2 separate regions of the Homo sapiens genome follow, and region 2 is linked to region 1. The links come from fine-mapping of genetic effects on gene expression. A gene starts in region 1. The other region holds a variant in brackets. All regions are shown on one strand. Distances are between the middles of the regions.

Region 1 (4,351 bases):
AATAATTTTGTCAAGATAATTTTTTCAAAGCACAAGGCCAATGAGAAGGGGGAAAGTCGGTCCAGAAGGCAGCCGGCCCGACTATTCTGAGTTTGAATCTACTCTTGGTGGTCCTGTTAAAATACAGTTTGAAGCAAATCACTTGTTTTTATGCTTCTAATGTCTACTCTGTCGAAAGCCCAAATTTCCTTGCTTGGCATTTAAGGAGACTCCAAGTTCTTAAAACTTCTTCTTGACTTTCATGCAAGTCAAACGGATTTATTTATTGTATCTCAAACAGTCCTCTTATATTTTCCTTTCTGTATTTTTTGATAATTTTCTTGTGCCTGGAATATTCTCTGCTTTTATTTAAGTCTCACCATCTTTCAAGACACAAAATATGTGTGATCTCTGAGGCCTTTGTGAACTGCCTCCAGCATTTACTAAGCAATTAATTCTGTCTCTGAACTTTTATAGCACAAACCCATTCGTTCACTTGATATTTAACAAATATCAACCTCTATCACTTATCTCTTTTTTTTTTTTTTTCTTCTGAGATGGAGTCTTGCTCTGTCACCCAGGCTGGACTGCAGTGGCGCGATCTCCGCTCACTGCAACCTCTGCCTCCCGAGATCAAGCGATTCTTCTGCCTCAGCCTCCCAAGTGGCTAGGATTACAGGCGCCCGCCACGGGGCCCGGCTAATTTTTGTATTTTTAGTAGAGACAAGGTTTCACCATCTTGGCCAGGCTGGTCTCGAACTCCTAACCTCGTGATCCACCCACCTCAGCCTCCCAAAGTGCTGGGATTACAAGCGTGAGCCACCGTGCGCAGCCTATCACTTATCTTTTCATGCTTACATTTTCTCACTGCTTGAGATTTTCTTTCATCCAGGGTCAAGCACTGAGTCTATTAGAAACCCCACTGTATATGATCTGATGAAGATGAGATTATCTTTTTAAAAGCCACATATTAAATCTCTTAAGTTAATAATATTGGCAATCAACTTAAATCAACTGAGTGACCACTATGTTTAAGGAAGTTTCCTTTCTGGTAGGCTGGGAAGCGGGAGAAGGGAAGGATATAACTTTATAAAAAAAAAAAAGCTGCAGAAGGGAAGGATATAACTTTATAAAAAAAGGTCCTTGTTCACAAGGAGCTAATCACTTACTGGCCAGAGAAGAAACGTGTTCCTTCTTTGCAATGGCTGTGTTTTTGGGTTTAGCTAACTCAATTCTTTATGTCCTCAATTTATGAGACCGCATCAAAAACGTTTTTGCCACATCTCTGTGGGAAAGTAGGTGAGTCAGAATGAGTGCATAATATATAAGTATATATTTTAATGATAATGAATGTGTAGATTAACAAACCCAAACTTTGTTTTTGTTTTTTTGAGAGTCTTGCCCTGTCGCCCAGGCTGGAGTGCAATGGCATGATCTTGGCTCACTGCAGCCTCTGCCTCCCGGGTTCACAGGATTGTCCTGCCTCAGCCTCCGGAGTAGAGTAGCTGGGATTACAGGTGACCGCCACCACGCCCGACTAATTTTTGTAGTTTTTAGTAGAGACGGCGTTTCCCATGTTGGCCAGGTTGGTCTTGAACTCCTGACCTCAAGTGATCCACCCGCCTCGGCCTACCCAAAGTGATGGGATTACAAGCGTGAGCCACCGCGCCCAGCCAAACCCAAACATTCTAAAAGCGCAGAGTAACCGCTCCCCTCCCCGCCAACGGTAACCAGCATCTTCGTTCTCCAACCAGAACAGCTGTATGCACCGGTGTATAAGCCTGCCTTAAGTGCTATTTTTAATCTTTTTTAAAAACAGGCCTTAAAATAACTCATTTGGGTACAACTCCAGCGGCTGGTGGAGTGGGCTTAATATATTAAACAGCTGTTAATTTTGGTTTCTTTTTGGTAACAGCGACACGGAGATCCGCATTTGTCGCAGTTTCCACCGCGGGCGGGAAGTGTAAACACAAGAAATACAAACATAGCGCAACGGCTAAAGGAGTGTCACAGCGCCAAACCTTGCTGGCTCCGCGCCAGGCCGAGCCCCACCCTCTCAGCTCGCGGCCAACACCCCCACCCCGCCTCACAGCCCGCCGCGCCCGCGGGGCGACACCCCCCACTCCATCATCCCGGAGGTGGTGCGGCCGAGCCCCGGACCCAATTGGCGGAAGCGGGGCCGGTTGTGTGCGCGCGCACAAATGCCCGGATGCGCCGCGACGACCCGCGCGCTCCCCTCGGGCGGTAGGGGGCGCGCACCGAGGCACCGCGGCGAGCTTGGCTGCTTCTGGGGCCTGTGTGGCCCTGTGTGTCGGAAAGATGGAGCAAGAAGCCGAGCCCGAGGGGCGGCCGCGACCCCTCTGACCGAGATCCTGCTGCTTTCGCAGCCAGGAGCACCGTCCCTCCCCGGATTAGTGCGTACGAGCGCCCAGTGCCCTGGCCCGGAGAGTGGAATGATCCCCGAGGCCCAGGGCGTCGTGCTTCCGCGCGCCCCGTGAAGGAAACTGGGGAGTCTTGAGGGACCCCCGACTCCAAGCGCGAAAACCCCGGATGGTGAGGAGCAGGTACTGGCCCGGCAGCGAGCGGTCACTTTTGGGTCTGGGCTCTGACGGTGTCCCCTCTATCGCTGGTTCCCAGCCTCTGCCCGTTCGCAGCCTTTGTGCGGTTCGTGGCTGGGGGCTCGGGGCGCGGGGCGCGGGGCATGGGGCACGTGGCTTTGCGGAGGTTTTGTTGGACTGGGGCTAGGCAGTCGCCGCCAGGGAGGAGGGCGGGATTTCGGACGGCTCTCGCGGCGGTGGGGGTGGGGGTGGTTCGGAGGTCTCCGCGGGAGTTCAGGGTAAAGGTCACGGGGGCCGGGGGCTGCGGGGCCGCTTCGGCGCGGGAGGTCCGGATGATCGCAGGTGCCTGTCGGGTCACTAGTGTGAACGCTGCGCGTAGTCTGGGCGGGATTGGGCCGGTTCAGTGGGCAGGTTGACTCAGCTTTTCCTCTTGAGCTGGTCAAGTTCAGACACGTTCCGAAACTGCAGTAAAAGGAGTTAAGTCCTGACTTGTCTCCAGCTGGGGCTATTTAAACCATGCATTTTCCCAGCTGTGTTCAGTGGCGATTGGAGGGTAGACCTGTGGGCACGGACGCACGCCACTTTTTCTCTGCTGATCCAGGTAAGCACCGACTTGCTTGTAGCTTTAGTTTTAACTGTTGTTTATGTTCTTTATATATGATGTATTTTCCACAGATGTTTCATGATTTCCAGTTTTCATCGTGTCTTTTTTTTCCTTGTAGGCAAATGTGCAATACCAACATGTCTGTACCTACTGATGGTGCTGTAACCACCTCACAGATTCCAGCTTCGGAACAAGAGACCCTGGTTAGTATTTTTGTCTCGTGTAACTTTTAAGAATAATTTATTTTATGAAGTGATAAACTAAATTTCGTATACCTCAATTGTAGCATGGCTCTGTAAATAAAATTGTATGTGCATAGCTTAAAGTGTGCTACCTCTGGCGTAACTGCGTGGAGTTAAAAACTGTTAAGAACTGGTCAGTATTTTTTTAGCCATTTGCCACATTTGCTTTAAAAATTAGTTCCATTACATTGTTAAGCGTGGTTGAAGTTACGTTTGTTACGTGACTGATTTTTTTTTCCTTTTTGACCTCCCAGTATTTAATTTTTAAAAATGGTTTCTAAAAGTCAAAAAAGTTATTCGTGCTTGTTTTAAAGATTTTTGTCATTAGAGAAATTTTAAAGTAAAACCTGAAAATTCCAGGCTTTTTGCTCCATGTTTCCTTTTAGATTTTTTGTGTGCGTACCCACATATATTTACATTTGAATTTAAATCTATGTTATTGTCCTGTTTGTTGTACTAACAAGATGAAACTGTAGTTGTTCTGTGACTTGCATCCTTGTCAATAAATAAAGTCTACAGAATTCTTTTTAATGGCTGCATAGTATTCCACAGCATGAGTATACCATTTTAAAAATTATTTATGCCTTTACTGATAGGTTTTTAAAAATTGCCTCCTGTTTTTGAGTATTACAGATAGTGCCGCTTTGTACATGCATCCCGTGTGACTATTTCTGTAAGAAAGATTTTATAGAATTATAGGCTGGCCTCGGTGGCTCACCCCTGTAATCCCATCACTTTGGGAGGCCAAGGCGGACCGATCACCTGAGATGAGGAGTTCAAGACTAGCCTGGCCAACATGGTGAAAACCTGTCTCTACTAAAAATACAAAAATTAGTCGGGCATGGTGGCGCGCGCCTATAATCCCCTGCTGAGGAGGCTGGGGCAGGAGAATCGCTTGAACCCAGGAGGCAGAGGTTGCGGTGAGCCAAGATTGCGCCATTTCACTCCAGCCTGGGCGATAAGAGCGA
Region 2 (4,394 bases), 20 kb before region 1:
AATATTAAAAAGTTATGCAAGGACACAGATATGAACAAGGAAATATTAACGTACCACCAGCTGTACCAAAATGCTGCAGTTCTCTGAGTAATCAAGTGATCATTACTCATGGTATCTCAGTCAGATTTCAGACTAGCAAGATCAACCTTGCTAGTCTCTCTTTTAGGAACTCAGTTCTTTTCCTTCTAATGCCTCATCCCAGTTTGCAATTATATATTTATTTGCTTCTTGTATTTCTCCTTTACTATACTGCAAGCTCAAAAAAGGCACAGGTTATATATGTTTTAATCAGGCTATATTTTAAATGCCTTGCACTGTGCCAGTAAATATTCGTTAAATATATGAATTGCTGGGTATGATGGTGTGAGCCTGTGGTGCCAGCTACTTGAAAGGCTGAGGTGGGAGGATCGCTTCAGCCCAGGAGTTCAAGGTTGTAGTGCACTACAGTCATGCCTCGAATAGACTTTGCACTCCAACCTAGCCAACATAGCGAGACCCTATCTCTAAAAGTAAATGAATTAATTAATGAATTAAGGGTCACAGCCAAATTCATGCTTAAAATATTTTGATACTTGGCCAAGAGGATAGTGGCAGTAAATCAATAAACTGGTTGATGGTGAACTTCTTTTTTGTTGTTGTTGCGGGGTTTTTTTGTTTTTTATTTTTTGAGACAGGGTCTCTGACCCCCAGGTTGGACTACAGTGGCACAATCACAGCTCATTGCAGTCTCAAGCCACCTTCCTGGGCTCCGGCAATCCTCCTGCCTCAGCCTCCCAAAGCACTGGGATTACAAGCATGAGCCATCCCACCTAGCAATGATGTGTGTACTTGTGACATGATGCATAGGATTTACCTTTCCACACTCAGCTAAATAACTGTTTCAATTTTGCTAGGAAAGTTCTGGTCTAGTTTGGTCTGGACTCTAGTTTACTTTTCTTTCTTTTTAACCTTACTTACTTTTTATTTTATTTTTATGTGTTTATTTTTTGAGACATAGTCTCGCTCTGTCACGCAGGCTGGAGTGCAGTGGCACGATCTCGGCTCACTGCAACCTCCACCTCCCAGGTTCAAGCGATTCTCCTGCCTCAGCCTCCCGAGTAGCTGGGACTACAGGCGTCTGCCACCACGCCCGGCTAATTTTTGTATTTTTAGTAGAGACGGAGGTTTCACCATATTGGCCAGGCTGGTCTCGAACTCCTGACCTCGTGATCTGCCCACCTTGGGCTCCCAAAGTGCTGGGATTACAGGCTTGAGCCACCGCGCCTGGCCTAACCTTACTTACTTTTTAACTGTGGCAAAGACTCTAGTCTTCTTTTAAGAGTAACTACAATTTACTTTTTAAAATTATTAAATAATTTTCTATCATACTTTTATGTGCTGTGTTTTATGGATTATGTGTTTTATGTGCTGAATTTATGTTTTTAAATCACTTTTTAAGTTATCTGCATCACTTTTAAGCAAGGTGGTGAGAGATAAAAACCATGTCGCTTTACTTTTAAAGTGAATGACCGCCTCTAAGCTTGAAAACATCACAGTTAGACTGTGTCATTTTCTGGTCTTTAGGTGGAGCCACTGCTATTGCAGGTTTCCTAAACCTAAACCTATTTATAGAGAAATTCCTCTTCAGTCATTTTATAACCAAAGCCTCTTGTAAGTATTTAACATTACATTTTAGCTCAGTGAATTTCACTATATAGGAAAGATCCTGAGAGAACTAACAATATAAAATATGTAGCCAATTCATACATATTTTAACATTCAGAAATACTACTTATTAGAATTTGAATTTATTTCTCAGACTTTTCTGAGAGGTTAGAAGGGCCCTGTTGTGTTTAACCCAAAGACCAGTTCAAAAACTAGGGA[A/G]GGAGCTGTTTAAGAGGAAGGAATGACTAACGTCTGAAGGTCAGAGGACTAAAATCCTGGTGATTGAACAAGTTGCAACACATGGGTTTTCCCTCTAAAAAAACAAAACAAGCCGGGCAAAAAAAAAAAAAAGAAAAAAACAAACAAAAAACATTCTGTGCTGGCCCCAGTAATTACTTGTACCCTTGCTCTTTCATTTCCTCTTCTAATGATAAAGGAAGCTGCAGTTGCTCAACTTGTGAACTGAAAACATGGGACAGCAATGACACAGGAAAATGGGCAAGTCCAGGCAAAAGCCCGTGCGGTGGCCAGAGTCCGGGCCTGCCTGCTTTCCCATCATTTTCCTTTCCCATGTTTGTTCTTTTCTTCTTTTCGCCTTGATTTCTTATCGTGTTCCTTTTTTTTTTTTTTTTTGAGATGGAGTTTCGCTCTGTCACCCAGACTGTAATTCAGTGGCACGATCTTGGCTCACTGTAAACTCCTCCTCCTGGGTTCAAGCAATTCTTCTGCCCCAGCCTCCCAAGTAGCTGGGATTACAGGCGGGTGTCACCATGCCTGGCTAATTTTTGTATTTTTAGTAGGCACGGGGTTTCACCATGTTGGCCAGGCTGGTCTCGAATTCCTGACCTCAAGTGATCCACCTGCCTCAGCTTCCCAAAGTGCTTGGATTACAGGTGTGAGCCATCACAACCGGCCTGTTACATTTTTTTAAAAAATATTTTCCACCACCCCTTTTTCCTTGTATCACACCTCTCCTTTAAGCCCACAAGTTAAAGCATTGATGAACACTTCTACTTCAACTTGGGAATATTAATACAAAAAAAAGACCCAGCACTCACTGAAGTACAACACAAAGCAAATCCCTTTTACTACAAATTCCTTTTTCTACAGCTCTTTCCAATGGATTTAAATTGTTCTTAAATGAAATTTTTAAACATATAAAATTGGGAAACATTTTAATTTTCATAGAGACCTATAAATCCATGTTTTCCCAAATTTAGTCCTGTCGAGGGTATGGGAAAACAAGTACCATCTTACATTCATCATGAGACCATAAATTGCATAGCCACAAAAATGCTCATGCCCTGTAACCCAGAAAATCCACTTTCAGGAGTTTATCCTAAGAAAGTAAAGATGTGCAAAAAGATTTTCTTTGTAGATGGGGTCTCACTGTCACCATGGCTGGAGTGCAGTGGCAAGATCATAACTCATTGCAGCCTCAAACTTCCATGGTCAAGCCATCTTCCTACCTCAGCCTCCTGAGTAGCTGAGACTACAGGCTTATGACACCGAGTGTGCCTAAGTTTTTTATTTTTTTTTTAATTTTTTTGTAAAGACAAGGTCTCTCTTTGTTGCCCAGGCTAGTCTTGAGCTCTTGGCCTCAAGTGATTCTCTGGCCTCAGCCACCTGAAGTACTGGGATTACAGGTGTAAGCCACCACGTCCAGCCCTGCATAAAGATTTTTGTGCAGAGAAGTTTATCACAGCATTATTATTATTATCATTTTTAGAGACAGGGTCTTGCTCTGTTGCCCAGGCTGGAGTGCAGTGGTGCGAGTATAGCTCACTGCAACCTCCAACTCCTGGGCTAAAGCAATCCTCTTGCCTCAGTCTCCTAAGTTGGTGTGCACCATCAGGCTGAGAAACATTATTGATAATAGCAAAAAAAATAGGAAAGCAACTAAATGTCCAACAGTTCTTGGTCCACCCGTCCATGTGACTCACCAGTCTTCTGGAAAGGCCTGGGATTTTTAACCTTATGCTTGCCACCTAAACCTCTGCTGGATGAGTGAGGCCCTAGAGATCAATAGACCTCTCTAGTTAATGATTACTAGTCTTCTCCCATTTCTAAGTACACACAGCTTGGTTTCCCCACCTTTATCAACATGCTGCTTAGAACATCTAACTATTTTCAATTGCAACTCCTTCCACCTTCCACTGTAAGAACTATAGTTTTTGGGCTGGGCGCGGTGGCTAACGCCTGTAATCCCAGCACTCTGGGAGGCTGAAGCGGGTGGATCACCTGAAGTCAAGAGTTTGAGACCAGCCTGATCAATATGGTGCAACCCCGTCTCTACTAAAAATACAAAAAAAACCAAATTAGTCAGGTGCGGTGGCATGTGCCTGGGTGACTGTCTCAAAAAAAAAAAAAAAAACAAGAACTATAGTTCTTGTTTTGTTTTGTTTTTTGAAACAAGGTCTTGCTCTGTCACCGAGGCTGGAGTGCAGTGGCACCATCACGGCTCACTGCAACCTCGAACTCCCTGGCTCAAGTGATCCTCCTACTTCAGCCTCCTGAGTAGCTGGGACAGTTTCTTTTAAAAATTATGATTATTGGCTGGGTGCGGTGGCTCACACCTATAATCCTAGCACTTTGGGAGGCCGACGCAAGTGGATCATGAGGTCAGGAGATCGAGACCATCCTGGCTAACACAGTGAAAACCTGTCTCTACTAAAAATACAAAAAATTAGCCGGGCATGGTGGTGGGCACCTGTGGCCCCAGCTACTCGGGAGGCTGAGGCAGGAGAATG

What was found. PIP is the estimated chance that this variant, and not a neighbour inherited with it, causes the effect.
Region 2: its variant is the best candidate, but not a certain one, in a credible set for the expression of MDM2 in whole blood (INTERVAL, PIP 0.54).

What each region holds. Positions count from the first base shown.
Region 1 is chr12:68,805,949-68,810,299 of GRCh38, forward strand. MDM2 (MDM2 proto-oncogene) reads left to right here and starts at 2,229. Exons shown (of 11, transcript NM_002392.6): 1 at 2,229-2,543; 2 at 3,260-3,344. The coding sequence starts at 2,530. RefSeq lists a silencer at 1,927-2,316 and enhancers at 2,518-3,717, 2,817-3,206.
Region 2 is chr12:68,785,580-68,789,973 of GRCh38, forward strand. No RefSeq gene overlaps it. Among named protein-coding and RNA genes, the nearest start is that of MDM2, 20 kb to the right of the region's middle. RefSeq lists enhancers at 1,666-2,220, 2,221-2,774. The variant A/G (reference allele first, on the strand shown) is at 1,864.